2 separate regions of the Homo sapiens genome follow, and region 1 is linked to region 2. A link means that fine-mapping ties the variant in region 2 to the expression of a gene that starts in the linked region. Tissue or cell type: ovary. Region 2 holds a variant in brackets; the other region holds the start of a gene. All regions are shown on one strand. Distances are between the middles of the regions.

Evidence for each region. PIP is the estimated chance that this variant, and not a neighbour inherited with it, causes the effect.
Region 1: it holds the start of BRIP1, and the variant in region 2 is fine-mapped to the expression of BRIP1 in ovary (GTEx, PIP above 0.99). The same link has a PIP of 0.9 or more in esophagus mucosa and unexposed skin.

What each region holds. Positions count from the first base shown.
Region 1 is chr17:61,858,684-61,866,872 of GRCh38, forward strand. It overlaps BRIP1 (BRCA1 interacting DNA helicase 1), which reads right to left and starts at 4,845. Exons shown (of 20, transcript NM_032043.3): 1 at 4,601-4,845; 2 at 2,764-2,886; 3 at 1,113-1,224. The coding sequence starts at 2,856. INTS2 (integrator complex subunit 2) reads right to left here. Exons shown (of 25, transcript NM_001351695.2): 25 at 6,684-8,189.
Region 2 is chr17:61,780,153-61,788,341 of GRCh38, forward strand. BRIP1 (BRCA1 interacting DNA helicase 1) reads right to left here. Exons shown (of 20, transcript NM_032043.3): 11 at 4,118-4,272; 12 at 688-853; 13 at 109-249. Among named protein-coding and RNA genes, the nearest start is that of BRIP1, 79 kb to the right of the region's middle. RefSeq lists an enhancer at 3,994-4,093. The variant G/A (reference allele first, on the strand shown) is at 4,569.

The sequences.
Region 1 (8,189 bases), 79 kb after region 2:
TTATTAGTAACAAACATTTCATTTTAAAAATGTATCTATATACCTATATACACATACATACATACATACACATACCATGTTTAACCTCAATTCTCCTAATACTTTAGGTTAAAGCCATCTAATGTAACTAAAATGTATCCAATATTATATTTCTGATTCATTATGTAGTTTATATAGTCTTTCATAGAAGTAAATATTAATAGGCATTTGTTAGCAAACAAAGTAAAAATAGTTTGGCCTGGTGGCTCATGCCTATAATCCCAACTATTTAAGAGGCTGAAGCAGGAGAATCACTTGAGCCTGGGAGTTTGAGGTTACAGTGAGCTATGATCACATCACTATGCTCCATCCCAGGTGACGCCACTCAAAAAAAAAAAAAAAAAAAGGAAAAGTAGTGGGAAGTAATATAAATTCATACAAACAATATTATACTAAATTTCTGTTTATCTGGCATTTAAACAAGTAGAAAGATCAACTAGAATGTATTCTTTTTTATATATTCCATGTGCTGATGTTATGAGAAAGGAACAGGTAAGCAAATATATTAAAGGATTTCCCCCCCCAAAAAAAGCAATTAGTATGTGTTACAGCATCATGACAGCCCATCTCTTGCATCTTTTACATACAAATTATCATCTAATTATTTTTATAATAACTCTAAGCATCCAAAACTTTGTTTGTTTGTTTTCTTTCACCCAGGCTGGAGTGCACAATCACAGCTCTCTGCAACCTCGACCTCCTGGGCTCAAGCGATCCTACCACCTCAGTCTCCCAAGTAGCTGGGACTACAAGTGTACATCACCATGCCTGGCTAATTGATTGTCAATTTTTGTAGAGATGGGGTATCACCATGCTGCCCAGGCTGCCAAGTCTTTATGTACTTTCCGACTCATCAAAAGACTAAATTATGTTCAATACTATTTTAGCATTAATTAAACATATTTTGCTATATTGAAACTCTTTTGGAAGATTTATAACTTATTTCAAAGAAACATCTTTAAACAAATATTTAAGTTAGCGACAGCATGGCTGAACCAGTCTGGATAAAGAATACTGTATTATATTTTCTCAGATCCCAGTAAGTAACCTGAAGATATCAAGCAACTACTTACCACTAAGAGATTGTTGCCATGCTAAAGCAGAACAAAGTAAGGCTAAGCTTTTTCCACTTCCTGTGGGACTCTCCAACAAACAATGTTGCTTGCTGTTTAATCCTCTGAGAATCTATGAACACAGAAACCAATGAAAATAATAAACATATTAACTTTATAAAGGTCTCTCTCCATCTGAAGTTTAAATAGAACAGCAAGGAAAAGTGAGATTGCACTCCAGGGAACACAACAATAGCAGAAGGAACTCATATTTAGTTAAATCCAAACTGTATTCCTTTACACCTCTCCCTAAGATTATCTTACTAAAATATCAAGCACAAGAGAAGAAATGAAAAGAGGAATCTGTGCCAGAATTATGCAAGCATCAATGATTTCTGTAAAACCAGAATACATTACTACCTATCAATATATTTGATGAAAACTTAATGAAGGATACTGCTAGTGAGAGTACAAATTGTTACAACTACTTGGTAGAGAAATAAACAATTTCTTATAAAGTGAAGATGCCCAGCTCCAGCAAGTCCAGTTCTATGTGTACACCCAAAACCTTTCCCACATGAACACAAGGAAACATGCATAAGAAAGTTCACAGCAGCAGCCACGCTTGTAATCCCATCACTTTGGGAGGCCAAGGCAGGTGGATCATTTGAGGTCAGGAGTTCGAGACCAGCCTGGCCAACACGGTGAAAACCCGTCTCTACTAAAAATCCAAAAATTAGCTGGGCGTGGTGGCGCATCCCTGTAATCCCAGCTACTGGGGAGGCTGAGGCAGGAGAATAGCTTCAGCCTGGGAGGCAGGGGTTGCAGTGAGCCAAGATCGCGCCACTGCACTCCAATCTGGGCGACAGAGTGAGACGCTGTCTCAAAAACAAAAAGAAAAAAGGAAGTTCACAGCAGCATTGTTTGTAACTGCAAAAGAATGTAAACAACCTAAATGTCTACCAATAAGAAAATGGACAGATAAATTCTGGTATATTCATCCAATGGAATTTATACAACAATTAAAATGGATTAAGAATCAACAGGGCTATACATTAAAAATAATGCTAAGTTAAAAAACTCAAGTTCTGCATAAAAAGTAAGGTACCGTATCACATCAATGCACAGTTTCAAATATGTAAAATAATATTCTATATTGTTTATGGATACATATATATGTAATAAAAGTATAAAAACATGGCTAGGAAAGGAAAAGAACAAATTCAGGATACTAATAATCTTGTTACCAGTAAATAAGATATGAAGTACATATGGCAAAATAGCTGTAACAAAACTGGAAAGCTGGTTTACTCAAATTTGTATATTAATTTTCTACATGATCCAAACAAAACAATGGTGAGAAAAATAGTATTCTGTGTAAAAGATAGTAAATACTCTGTTTTTACTTAAAAGTATAGCAGTTTTTCATTAAAAGTATAGAAATTCCAAATGAGCTGAGAACATTTTTCAGAATGTTCTTCTTTGCCTTAACCACAGATATATACAGTTTAGCTGCAATCAGTAGTTTCCCAGAGGTTAGATATTCTTCCAAGTGAACCCAGAAAATATTCTCCATTTACTGAGAATATGAATGCAGTCAAATACTCAATGTACTTTATGGGTCATAAGTATCTATATCTTAATAAAAACTTAACTGCTGAAAAATACTTACAGAATTCATCATAGCAAGCTGTGACGGGTAAGCTTTATAAGGAAAGTAAATCTTCACCCCACCAATTGTATATTCAGACCACATTGAAGACATAGTGCTTTCCTGTTTATTTCAGATTCCTAACTACAACAGAAATGAAAATGTCAAATATTGAGACACGCCTTACAAAGAAAACCAGAGAACCAAAACTAAGGGAGAAATCTGGAAACAGAAACTGGAATTAATAAAAGTATAAACAAAACAAATGGAAACAAAATAATTTCCTAGTCTTATAAATCACAGCGGTCAAGAGCATGTCTTAGAGTCTAACAAATCTAGATTTGTATCCTTCACTCTGCCAGGTATTAGTTGTGTGACTTCGGGAAAGTTAGTTACCTTCTCTAAGCCACAGTGACTGCATGTACCCCATAGGATTGTGGTAATGATTAAGTGAAATAATGTGCAAATATGATAAAGTACATACCAGATTAAACATGAGCTCTTGTAACAGTTAGATCAGATGTAATCAACCTACAGAAACAAATAAGTTCCTGAGGCCTCTCTCTCTACAACTCCGTAGCATCACTCTTTCTCCAGTTCTTCCCCTTTGTGTTACCCCTTTCTGCAGTCCTCCAGTTAGAAGAAAAAAGCTGTTGACCAGAAGTCAGGAAGCATAGGTTCTATACCAGGTTTTGGTATACTGCCTGGTATGTTATCTTTGACTCAGGTATGTTATCTTTGACATATCTTTTTACTTCTCTAGTCTAAGATCCTTACCTGTGATAACCCCTAATTTAATTTAAAGGCTGTTATAAGAAAGAGAATGCCTTGGCACATAGTAGGCACTCAAAAATGTTATTTGAAGATCAGTAGAGTATTATAGAAACAGGATGGGCTTTGGAGTAAGGCAATCCTAAGTTTGAATTCCACTGTGTGAATCACTTAACTTCTCAGAGCTTGTTTCTCCATATATGGAATTGAAATACTACTACTTACCTGACAGGGTTTTTATGAAAATTAGCCAGGGCAGAATGTACCTAACCCAGGATCTGATACAGATGAGGATCACTTTAATCCTCACCTCTTCTAAACCACTTTTCTTAACCTAGGATCCACGGATGTAATTCAGAGACAATGACCTCTTGAAATTGCAAGCATAAGTTTCTGTACATGATTGCATTTTTCTGAAGAAAAAGTCCATAGATTTCTCTTCCCGTAAATATATCTCAAGGAAATCAAAATAGCGGGGGAAATTACATGCACTGTTATTAAATAAGGAATTATTTGCAGTCGTGGGAAAAAATTGTAAATTCAACCTGGGGACGAAGAGATGGTTAAAATAGCAATTCAATAGATTATGAAGCCAATAATAACATTCACCACTGCTTGTGTGCTCCAAAAGAAGAACCATTATTCTAGGGTATTTTCCAGCTCTAACATTTTGCGATTCTATCTGTAAAGCTCTGAGAATGAGGTATGGTGGAATCTAACCTCTTAATATGAATCAACAACTCAACGCTGGCCTAGTTACTCAGATATAATCTAGAAATCAGCCCGTCCTGTACCCCGGCTGTGGCAACAATAGTGTCAAAATGGGGTAGCTTCCCCCAAACATTGCATAAAGGATAAACACACCCCTCTGCCTCCCGCCAAGAATTAACGCAGCGCCCGGGCTAAGAACAGGCCTGCGCTCAAAGGAGGTAAGGATAGGCTCCCTCCTCAGGTTTTCTGCCCCGTATCTCCCTCCTCCCCCAGCCAGTTGAGATCCCCGAGACCCTGGTGATCCAGTCACCACCCATGGGCCCGCAGGCTGTGCAGAAGAACTCAAGCCCTTTCCGTGGACTTCCCTCCGACTTGCCTGTCTGGAGGGAAACCGAAGCAACGCTCTGAGCTCCGATTCACTGAAGAAAAGGAAAGGAAACCGACTTCTGAGAGCAAATAAAGCGGAGCCCTGGAAGAGAAGAAAGGGCACGAGCCCTTCCTCCTCCCTCTTCCTGGGGGTGCTGCTACTTCCCCGGCCTTGTGTGCAGGACTGGGGCCGCCGTTACCTTTCCTCGACCCACCAGACCCCTCAACCACACAACCCGAGACGAATTCCCGCCTCCCGCCCCCTCGACTCCCAGCGCCCAATAGCCCAGCGAGCTCGACCAATCACCCGCCAAGGCCAGGAATCAACCAGTCCCGGTGCGAGGTGAGGGGGCGAGAACTTCGGCATCCAATGGAAGTCTCCGAAAAAAAAAAAAAAAAACAAGGGCTCAAGGTACGCGGCGGAAGGTTGTCGCCACTCCAGCAAATCCCTAGTGTTTGTTTAAAGTAGAAAGTCGTCTCAGTTTGACTTTTGAAACCGGCGATAGAGTCTATGCAGCAAATTCCTTGGAAACTGGAAGTCTCATTCTTCACGTCCGTAGACCAGCGGAAAGGAAGTATCTTTAAGCTTTGCCAAGTTCTTTGAGCATTTATCAGTGCCACTCAATTTAAATTACCCAGCTTTGCAGTAGCCAGGATAGCGAAGACTCAGGCGGGAATTGCCAGACTGCTGAGCCAAACTTAAGTAAGAAGGCTCTGTGACATCGGGCTACAATCTATCTTTCATAATATTCAAGGCTTTCCCGGATGCTAAAATAAGCCAGAGACAAGCTCTCAGGGTCTCCAGTATCAGATCACTTCTACTTCCATTAAGGCTTATCCGCCTTCCATCCCTCCTAAGACCAGTTTATTATTTGCCAGTAGTACTTTAATTTACTCAAAGAAAAGGAGGTTCATCATGATCTTGCCAAATCATGTTATTTTTTTAAAAAATCTGTATAACCTAAACTTGGCTCAAATAATAATGTCTCCAAAAGGCAAAACCTCATACTGTTTCTCAAATTCAAGTAACTAGTTTGGGGAAGGAGTTTGCTGGGAAGAAAGAGCAGGAGGGGGCTAGTTGATTTGTTTGCCTCATTGTCAATTGTGATATATCTTACCAAAAATGACAAAACTTGTAGTCATAAAAATAAACTCTACCCTTTGACCTAGTAATCTGAGCTCCAGATATTTATCCTAAAGACGTAATCTAAACGAAAGAAAATGTGATACCGCAATTGACAATAATATCTATTGGTAATACTGAAAAAAATTATGAACTTCCCAGTCTAGTAATATGGAGGTGGTTATGACAGATGAATTCAATACATTATGAAGCCAATAAACTTATAAAAATTAAACTTGCAAGAAAAAATCCCATATAAGGTTAAGTGAAAAAAGGCAAAGCAAACCCCAAACTGGGTGTTAGGGATTCAGTAATGTGAAAATACATATGAATGAGCAAAGATGAAGTAATTTACTGTTAAGACAATGAAAGGAAGGATAATGTTTAAAAATAAATCCTTAAAAATACCTTCAAATTGTCATTTCTCTTTTATAATTTTTAAAACATCAACTCTTGGCCGGGCGCAGTGGCTCACGCCTGTAATCCCAGCACTTTGGGAGGCCGAGGCAGGCGGATCACCAGGTCAGGAGACCAAGACCATCCTGGCTAACACGGTGAAACCCCGTCTCTACTAAAAATACAAAAAATTAGCCGGGCGTGGTGGCGGGCGCCTGTAGTCCCAGCTACTCGGGAGACTGAGGCAGGAGAATGGCGTGAACCCAGGAGGCGGAGCTTGCAGTGAGCCGAGATGGCGCCACTGCACTCCAGCCTGGGAGACAGAGCGAGACTCCGTCTCAAAAAAAAAAAAAATCAACTCTTTTGAGTAACTGCTCTAGTATAACTACTCTCATTTTCCTCTCCTAAATTACTAAGAGTTTCAACTGGCTCTCACCTTGCATTGCCATTTAATGTATGTGGCATAACAGAAAGGGATACACGTAGGCCCTGGAGCCATACAGACCTCGAATACAGTCCCTTGAACCGTTCCCTTCAGGTTAACTCTAGTGGAATGAAACACAAAAACTACAGGTTCGTTTGATAAAGAATATGAATGTTTATAAACCAATATTCAAAATAGCTGCACACATCTGTTTTCACTTGAATAAAAAAACACATTGTGACAAATTTTATAACCTTAACTTAAAATACATGAATATTAACATTTACTAATATATTTACACATTTTATTTACATCATCAACAAATCTGATGAAAAAGAGCATATGTGATTATTTTAACACAGCAGGTTATGACCAGTCTTTGAATATTGATCCAGGAATGTGCACTGCATTTAATTAGAAAACATACTTTTAACTTTTTCTGAACTCCTAGGGCATATCTATTCACACAAAATATCGCAAGGCCTCAGTTTAAAAAAAAAAGGAGCAGTTGTATTTAATCTTAAGGGACTACAAAACTGCCTTGTTTAAAAATATGAAAATTCTTATGCTATTTTTAAGATACTTTTATTACTTTTATTTTTCACATCAAAATTACTTAATTGAACATTAAGCATCTAATAAAAAGTTATAAATATTCTATCACATGTGATACTATGCACTTCATGATTTGAAACAGCTACAAACTCATTCTCATAGAATATGAGGTAGGGCCAGTAGTAACCCCATTTTACAAAGGAAGAAAATGAGATGTGACTATTTACTAGTGAAAAGGCTAAAGTTAAATTTCATTTCTCAAAAACTACACCTTCTTATTAGCCTAATTTCTTTTACAAGTGAAGCGGTCTGGCCAGGTGCGGTGGCTCACACCTGTAATCCCAGCACTTTGGGAGGCCAAGGTGGGCAGATCACCTGAGGCCAGGAGTTCAAAACCAGTCTGGGCAACATGGCAAACCCCCGTCTTTACTAAAAATACAAAAATACAGGTGGCGCGTGCCTGCAGTCCCAGCTACTCAGGAGGTTGAGGCACGAGAATCCCTTGAACCCAGGTGGCAGAAGTTGCAGTGAGCCAAGATCATCCCACTGCACTCCAGCCTGGGCAACAGGGGAAGACTCCACCTCAGGAAAAAAAAAAAAAAAACACAAGTGAAGAGGTCTGTTTCAAGTGGGGGTGGGGAAGTGTGTGATTGAGGTATATCTCAGAGAGAAAAAAGGGAATTACTTTCTACATTGATAATTTTTTTTTAATGATTAGGGTTTACCTGAATATGTCTGCCTAATCAATGGAAGTTACTGACAGAGGACTGCAAAATCCTTCGGCAAGACAATATTTTCTACACTTTAACTTTTCCTCAGGTTCAAACACTGCATTTTCTTACTCAAAGATCTTCTCAAAGTAAGATATGAATTATAATCCTGATGACAAACCAAGAGCTCTTTAATCCAGTGGGTTTTATTGCTCTACCTTCATTTAATTTGATACATATTTCCCCCCTCTGAGCATTAGGTAAGTTAATAAAGCATTATAAAAATAAATTTAAAACATAAAACTAAATGAGATCTCTCAGGTTCTTCTTTGAACAAAGATGTTTCTGTAAACACTTTTACACCAGTATCTTAAAATTCCAAATTATTCAA
Region 2 (8,189 bases):
CCTACCAAGATTTACTTGCTGGCACTTCAGGTATCTTCTAACTTGTTTACATAGTTATATTGAAGTAGAAACACTGAAGGCCTTCCAAAAAAAAAAACAACAACTAACCTGTGAATTTTTAATGATATGATTAGCCTCCAGCTGGATAGTAAATGTAACACCAAGTTCTGACGAAAAGGATTTCATTGGTGATAATGTACCAGATGTCAAAACAATGGTCTGAACTTTGCCATTAATATCTGAAAAGGCCTAAAAGAAAACAACATTAGATAAATAAAATTATCTTTAGAAGAGGCTGGGCAAAGTGGCTCACACCTGTAATCCCAGCACTTTGGGAGGCTGAAGCAGGAAGATCGCTTGAGTCTAGGAGTCTGAGACCAGCCTGGGCAATATGGTGAAACCCCGTCTCTACAAAAAATACAAAAATTAGCCGGGCATGGTGACACATGCCTATAGTCCCAGCTACTCGGGAAGCTAAGGTGGGAGGATCGCTTGAGCCTGGAAGGTCAAGGCTACAGTGAGCTGAGATTGCACCACTGCACTCCAGCCTGGGTGAAGAGCAAGACCCTGCCTCAAAACAACAACAACAACAACAACAAACAACTATCTTTAAAAGAGTCAACCACATTTATTAAAATGCTGGTACTGAGCAAGAAGACAAAATTTCCATTTACATGATGAGCTTACCACAGCTGGATTTAAGCACCAAAAGTTTAGCACATGAACTGCAGTTTTCTGTCGTGAACGTTTCTTATTTTTTGGTAGAACCAACAACCCATTTTTGTCTGAAATATCAATCTGATTTGTCCAGGAGTAAGTCTGTTGAATCGCAATTTTATAATCATCTGCAAATCTAGATGCAAAGAAAGTGCTAATTAAGTGGCAAAACTTTTAAAACCTATGACCCAGCTACATACAATATAAAAACTGATTACATTAAAACTCATTTGAAAGAGCTGGTACCTTCCCATTCAAAAATAACATTCTCCTTACCATTAATTAAATTCAGTAATTCTGATATTAATAAAGCCATTAATCATAGAATCAACTGATTCTCAGAGGGAATATTAGAAATCATCTAACCATCTATCTTTTATCAGCTACTTCCTAACCTCATTTTCAAACATTACATATGTCATGGCAGAAGCAGAATTAAAATCCAGGCCTCCTAACTCCCAGTCCAGAGCTCTCTGCATGCTCTACTACATGATGAGTTACAAAATAGAAAACAGTATTATGGTTAAAGAGACTAAAAGGTGGGTTATACTTTTTTATTAAATGAGAAAATAGAAGGATAATTTTTACTGAAAGTTTTTAAAGTATTAGCAACAAGTTATAAAATTCTTACATTCCTTTGAAACCTGAGTCTCAGCCTTCATCTACTTTTAATGAAGGTGCTGAACCAGATGATATCTGTGATCCCATCCAGTGTATAACTGCTTTCAATAAGAATCTAGAAAATGGTTAAGCTTAAAAATAATAAAATGTGGCCAGGCGCGGTGGTTCACACCTGTAATCCCAGCACTTTGGGAGGCCGAGGCAGGTGGATCACGAGGTCAGGAGTTCGAGACCAGCCTGGCCAACATGGTGAAACCCCGTCTCTACTAAAAATACAAAAATTAGCCAGGTGTGGTGGCAGTCGCCTGTAACCCCAGCTACTCAGGAGGCTGAGGCAGGAGAATCACTTGAACCCGGGAGGTGGAGGTTGCAGTGAGCTGAGATAGCGCCACTGCACTGTAGCCTGGGTGACGGAGCAAGACTCCATCTCAAAAAAAAAAAAAAAAGTAAAATGTGATATTCTCTACCATGTCTTCGCTATAGTATTTCCTTATTCATTTCACTCCTAGAGAGATTAGATCTCAAAATTAAAGTTGGGAACTTAACAACTGTGGAGAGAATCTTATAAAAATACTGGGAGCCAAAAACTGTAAAACTCTTAAAACAAAGGGGAGACCGGGTGCGATGGCTCACGCCTGTAATCCCAGCACTTTGGGAGGCCGAGGTGGGCGGATCACGAGGTCAGGAGATCGAGACCATTCTGGCTAACACGGTGAAACCCCGTCTCTACTAGAAAATACAAAAAATTAGCCGGGCTTAGTGGCGGGCGCCTGTAGTCCCAGCTACTCGGGAGGCTGAGGCAGGAGAATGGCATGAACCCGGGAGGCTGAGCTTGCAGTGAGCCGAGATCGCGCCACTGCACTCCAACCTGGGTGACAGAGCGAGACTCCCGTCTCAGAAAAAAAAAAAAAAAAAGGAAAAGAAAACATAGGGGAAATCTTCATATCAGATTTGGCCATGATTTACTGGATGTGACACTAAAAGTACAGGCAACAACAAGAAAAGAGAAAGATAAATTGGACTTCAACAAGATTAAAAACCTTTTCTGCATCAAAGGACACTATGAATAAATGAAAAAACAACCCACAGAATGAGAGAAAATATTTGTAAAGTATATATCTCTTACAGGACTGACATCCAGAATATCTAAATAACTACAGCTCAACAACAACAACAAAAAAACCCAATAATTCAAAAGTGGGCAAAAGACTTCAATAGATATTTCTCCAAAAAAAGACATACAATTGGCCAATAAGCACATGAAAAGATTCTCAACTTCTCTAGTCATTAGGAAATACAAATAAAAACCAGATGATATCACTTGATACCTATTAGGATGGCTATTATACAAAAAATAAAATAACGAGTGTCAGCAAAAACAATTCTGATATATGCTGCTACATAAACTGTTGGCAAGGATGTGTAGAAATTGGAACCCTTGTGCATTGATAATGAGAATGGAAAATAATGCAGTTGCTGTGAGAAACAGTATGGTGAGTCCTCAAAAAGTTAAATGCAGCATTACCATATGATTCTGCAATTCCACTGCTAGGTACTTATATACACCCAGAAGAACTGAAAGCAGAACTCAGATATTTGTACACCAACGTTCATAGTAGCATTGTTTACAATAGGCAAAAGATGAAAACAACCCAAATGTCCATTAACATAAGAATAAATTAACAAATTGTGGTATATACATACAATGGAGTATTATTCAGCCATAGAAAGGAATGAAATTCTGATATATGCTACTACATAAATGAACTCTGAAAACACTGTGCCAAATGAATTGAAATAAGCCAGACACAAAAAGACAAACATTGTATGATCGCTCTTATGTGAAATACCTAGAAAGGACTTCATAAGATGAAAATAGAATACAGGTTAGCAGGTGATGAGGGGAAAGACTCTAGGGGTTATTATTTCATGGGTACAGAATTCCTATTTGGAATAATAAAAAATTTCTGGAAATCTCTGGAAATGAGTACAATGTACAACATTGCAAATATACTGTACTTAATGGCACTGAGTTGTATACGTAAAATGGTTAAAATGGTGTATTTTATGTATATTTTACCACAATAAAAAAAAAATACCAGAACTAGGTACTACTATAATTTAAGTTACAGGATGAGAGGGATTGGTTGTTTTTCATTTTCCACAGTTCATACAATAAAAAAGGGACTTTCTGACACTGTAGGAACATAAGAAAACTTTAGCAATAGAAGATAATTTAATATGAATTAATTAAATATATTTATTTAATGATTTCAATATTCATTAATATAAAAGACTAATTTTGGCCAGGCATGGGCTCACACTTACAATCCTAGCACTTTGGGAGGCTGAGGTGGGAGGATCACTTGAGGCCAGGAGTTCAAGACCATCCTGATCAACATAGTGAGATCTCATCTCTACAAAAAAAATAAAAATTAAAAAATTAGCTGGGTGTGGGTGTTGCACACCTGTAATCCCAGCTACTCAGGAAACAGGTGGGAGGATTGCTTAAGCCCAGGAGGTCAAAGTTGCAGTGAGCTGTGATCATGCAACTGCACTTCAGCCTGGGTGACAGAGAAGTCCCTGTCTCAAAAAAGCATCAGACTAATTTCAATTCCTCTAAGTCTGTGTCAATAAGAGCAAATATATAATAATATCTATAACACTTGTTTTCAATTCTCCTATTTACTCACCCAAAATAGGTATGTATTAAACACATGCTAGCATCCAAATTAGGCTATTTTTAAAAGGAAAATACATACTAGTTATCTTCACTTACCTGCTATTTTGCCTAAAAAGATAGTCAAGTACCATAAAAAGTCCTTTAAGCATTATTTGAGTTGATGCACTAATAACAGGTACTTCTCTTGCCTCCTCTTTACCATAAATTGGTGAGATTTTTTCCTCTTTTTGAAGAACAGCAGAAAAATGTCCCTATAAGAAATTACCATATTAAGTATAGAGGGGTTGGGAGGGAATTGGAAAAAGAAACTTCTCAAAAATACAATGAAACCCAACAAAACATGCATTGAAATTTTAGGTGAACAGAATTGCTATAGTTTGATAGTCTGACTTCTCCAAATCTGATATTGAAATTTCATCCCCAGTAATGGAAGTGGGGCATATCAGGAGGTTTGGGACCATGGGGGTAGATACCTCATGAATAGATTAACGCCCTCCCTAAGTAGAGAGGGGGTGAGTTAGTGCTCTGTTAGTTCCCACGAGAGCTG[G/A]TTGTTAGAAAGAGCCTGACACCTCCCTCCCTTCTCTCTCTCGCTTCTTCTCTTGCCATATGATCTGTACAAACCAGCTCCCCTTCACCTTTTGCCATCAGTGGAAGCAGGCTAAGGTCCTCAAAATTAGATGCTGGAGCCATGCTTCGTACAAGCTGCAGAACTGTGAACCAAATAAACCTCCTTTCTTTGTAAGTTACCCAGCCTCAGGTATTTATAGTGATACAAACAAAGACAATTATTAACAGCACAATGCTAACAATATATTTTAGATTGCCATATTAGCAAAATTCTCCTCAGAGTCAAAGACTCTTTAATAATAAGTTAGGTATTTAGAAGATTCAATCAGGGTATTATTTGGTGCCTTTCAGATGTAAGGAATTAAATAAAAATGTAGCAAATGGCTTCTCCAAAAGGCTTTAAAGAGTTGATATGTTGCCTTAAATCCATGAGTTATTTCCAGAAAGTAATTCTGATGCTGAGAATAATATGACTACATCACAAGCAAAACTAAATGACTTAAGGAAACAATACATGCTAAATAACAAAATGTATGTTAACTGGTTCTTTGGTCTTTACATGGCTCATAAGTTTTAATATGGATGAAAGTGTGGACATTAAAACAAAATTATAAGAAAACAGAAGAGTATGTTCCCCACATTGTAAAAGAGAAAATTCTGAATACTGAAGCAATAAAAGATATTGGTGACAACTCTGATGTCTGACAATAAAATGTGTTCAATGAAAATAAAATGGGGAAATAGGATAAATAAGAAAGATACATTTTAATATTCAGATATATCATGAAACAATACAAATCTATAAGAGTAAAAATCAGCCTTCACTGAACAAAACATTACAGAATACAAATAAGTAGAAAGACTTAAAAAACAAACCAACAAAGAACAAACAAGAAAGACAACATGAACTTGGAAAAATATTCAGCCCTGCAATGAAATACAAATATCAAATTATTCTTTTTGAAAAATGAAGTCCCCTCAGCAACACCTTATATCAAAGCTTAATATCCTTCTCCAACACTGGCAGAACACTGGCAATTTACTCTGATAAAATATAGAAAATATAAACTACTAAAGGTGAGGCGCTGTACTAAAAACAGAAGGGCTAAATGAAATCCTACATATTCAATTATTAGAGTACTCCGAGCTCAATTCCAGTTAGCTTACCTACACATTGGCAGCTGGGTTGGGGGGGGTAGAAAAATAGAAAACTAAGCAATGGAAAAATAAATAAAAAGTTAATTATGGTTCCTTAGGAAACATACATAAAGCTGTATAAAAATATAATCAAGTAAGCTACATGCATTACTATCATGGGCTATAATAATACATACACGTGATGATATCCACGCTGAATATCAATATAACTATACTGGCAGAATAGAGAGTGAAGAGAGAGAAGAAAGAAGGGCAGAAAAGCAGGAAGCAAAGGAAGAAGAGAGAGCGCATGAGTGAGCGTGTGTGTGTGTGTGTGACAGAGAGAGAAGAGTGTGTGTGAGTGTGTGCGTGTCTAAAGGAGCTAAATCATCATTATACTTAACAGAAAGTCAACAGACAACATCTAAAATTGAAAACTCCAAAGAAGCAGAACCCACGTTATTTTTTTAAATGTGGTTAAATATCAGAAGAAACCACTACAAGAGATAAAAGTGCACTCCAAAGTGAGAATTGGGATTGAGGAGTGGGTCAGAGGAATGCTTTTCTCAACAGAACTGACTCTTTATATTCTATAGGTATACTACTTTGGTAAAAATTCCTAAAAATATTGATAATCATAATGATGAATGTCTTAGCCAACTAGAATTAGGGCAAATTTCCTTAATCCAATAAAAATAACTATAAAATATATAATATAATAAAAATATAATATATATATTATTTAACAGCTCTAATTAATTTTTTAATTTAATTAACTGAATTGAATTGAATTAAAATTAACAGCTTTATTGAGCTATAATTCACATGCTTACAATTTACCTTTTTAAAGTGAGTTCTGTGGGTTATTTCTATATTATATATTTTATATATTATATATTTATATATAATATAGTATATATTATATATTTATATATTTTATATAAATATATTTTATATAATATATTTATATAAAATATATATTCATATATGTATTAATATATTAATATATAAATATATTTTATATATAATGTAAATATAAAAATATATATTTATATATAATATATTTATATATAATATATTTATATTATATTTATATTTATAAATTTATATAAATTTATAAATAATTTTATAAAATTATAATTTTATTTATAAATAAATTTATATAAATTTATATAAATTTATAAATATAATTATATATAAATATATTGCATGTTTATGTATTAATAAATATATTAATATATAATATATTATATACTATATAAAATATATAAAAATATATTATATACTATATAAAATATATAAAAATATATTATATACTATATAAAATATATAAAAATATATTATATACTATATAAAATATATAAAAATATATTATATACTATATAAAATATATAAAAATATATTATATACTATATAAAATATATAAAAATATATTATATACTATATAAAATATATAAAAATATATAAAACATTATATATTAATATATTATATATAGTTATATACTATATATAGTATATATATTTATATAAAATATTTATATAAAATATATAATATATATACTATATATTATATATAAATATATAATATAAAAATAACCCACAGAACTCACTTTAAAAAGGTAAATTTTAAGCATGTGAATTATACCTCAATAGAGCTGTTAATTAAAAAAGAATTTTTAATCACAGCAAACATCTCAATAAAGGGTGCAATACTAGTAATTCCTCCTTTAAGCAACAAAACCAAGATGTCTTTTTCTTTTTTTTATTTTATTTTATTTCTTTTTTGAGACAGAGTCTCGCTCTGTCGCCCAGGCTGGACTGCAGTGGCGCGATTTCGGCTCACTGCAAGCTCCGCCTCCCAGGTTTGCGCCATTCTCCTGCCTCAGCCTCCTGAGTAGCGGGGACTACAGGCGCCCGCCACCACGCCCGGCTAATTTTTTGTATTTTTAGTAGAGACGGGGTTTCACCGTGTTAGCCAGGATGGTCTCAATCTCCTGACCTCGTGATCTGCCCGCCTCGGCCTCCCAAAGTGCTGGGATTACAGGCGTGAGCCACTGCGCCTGGCCCAGGATGTCTTTTTCATTGCCTGTGATAAACAACGCACTGGAAGTCTGAGACAGCATAGTAAGAAATAAAAACATGAAGAAATAGAAAGAAATGAGAAAGAAAGAAACCGGTCATTATTCAGACAATATGGTTATCTACATGGAAAATTTAAGATAATCTGTGGGCAAACCTGTAAAATAATTCAACAAGGTGGTTAATAAGACAATTATAAGATAAATATATAAAAATCAAACACCAGTTTTATATAGCAATAACAATTAAAAATGTAATTTTAAAAATATATCATTTGTAATGGAAACAGAAACTTTAAGCTACCCATGAATAAATCTAACCAAAGCCATCTAATCTTTTAAAAATAAAATTATAAAATTTTATTGAAAGATAGGAAAAAATAATG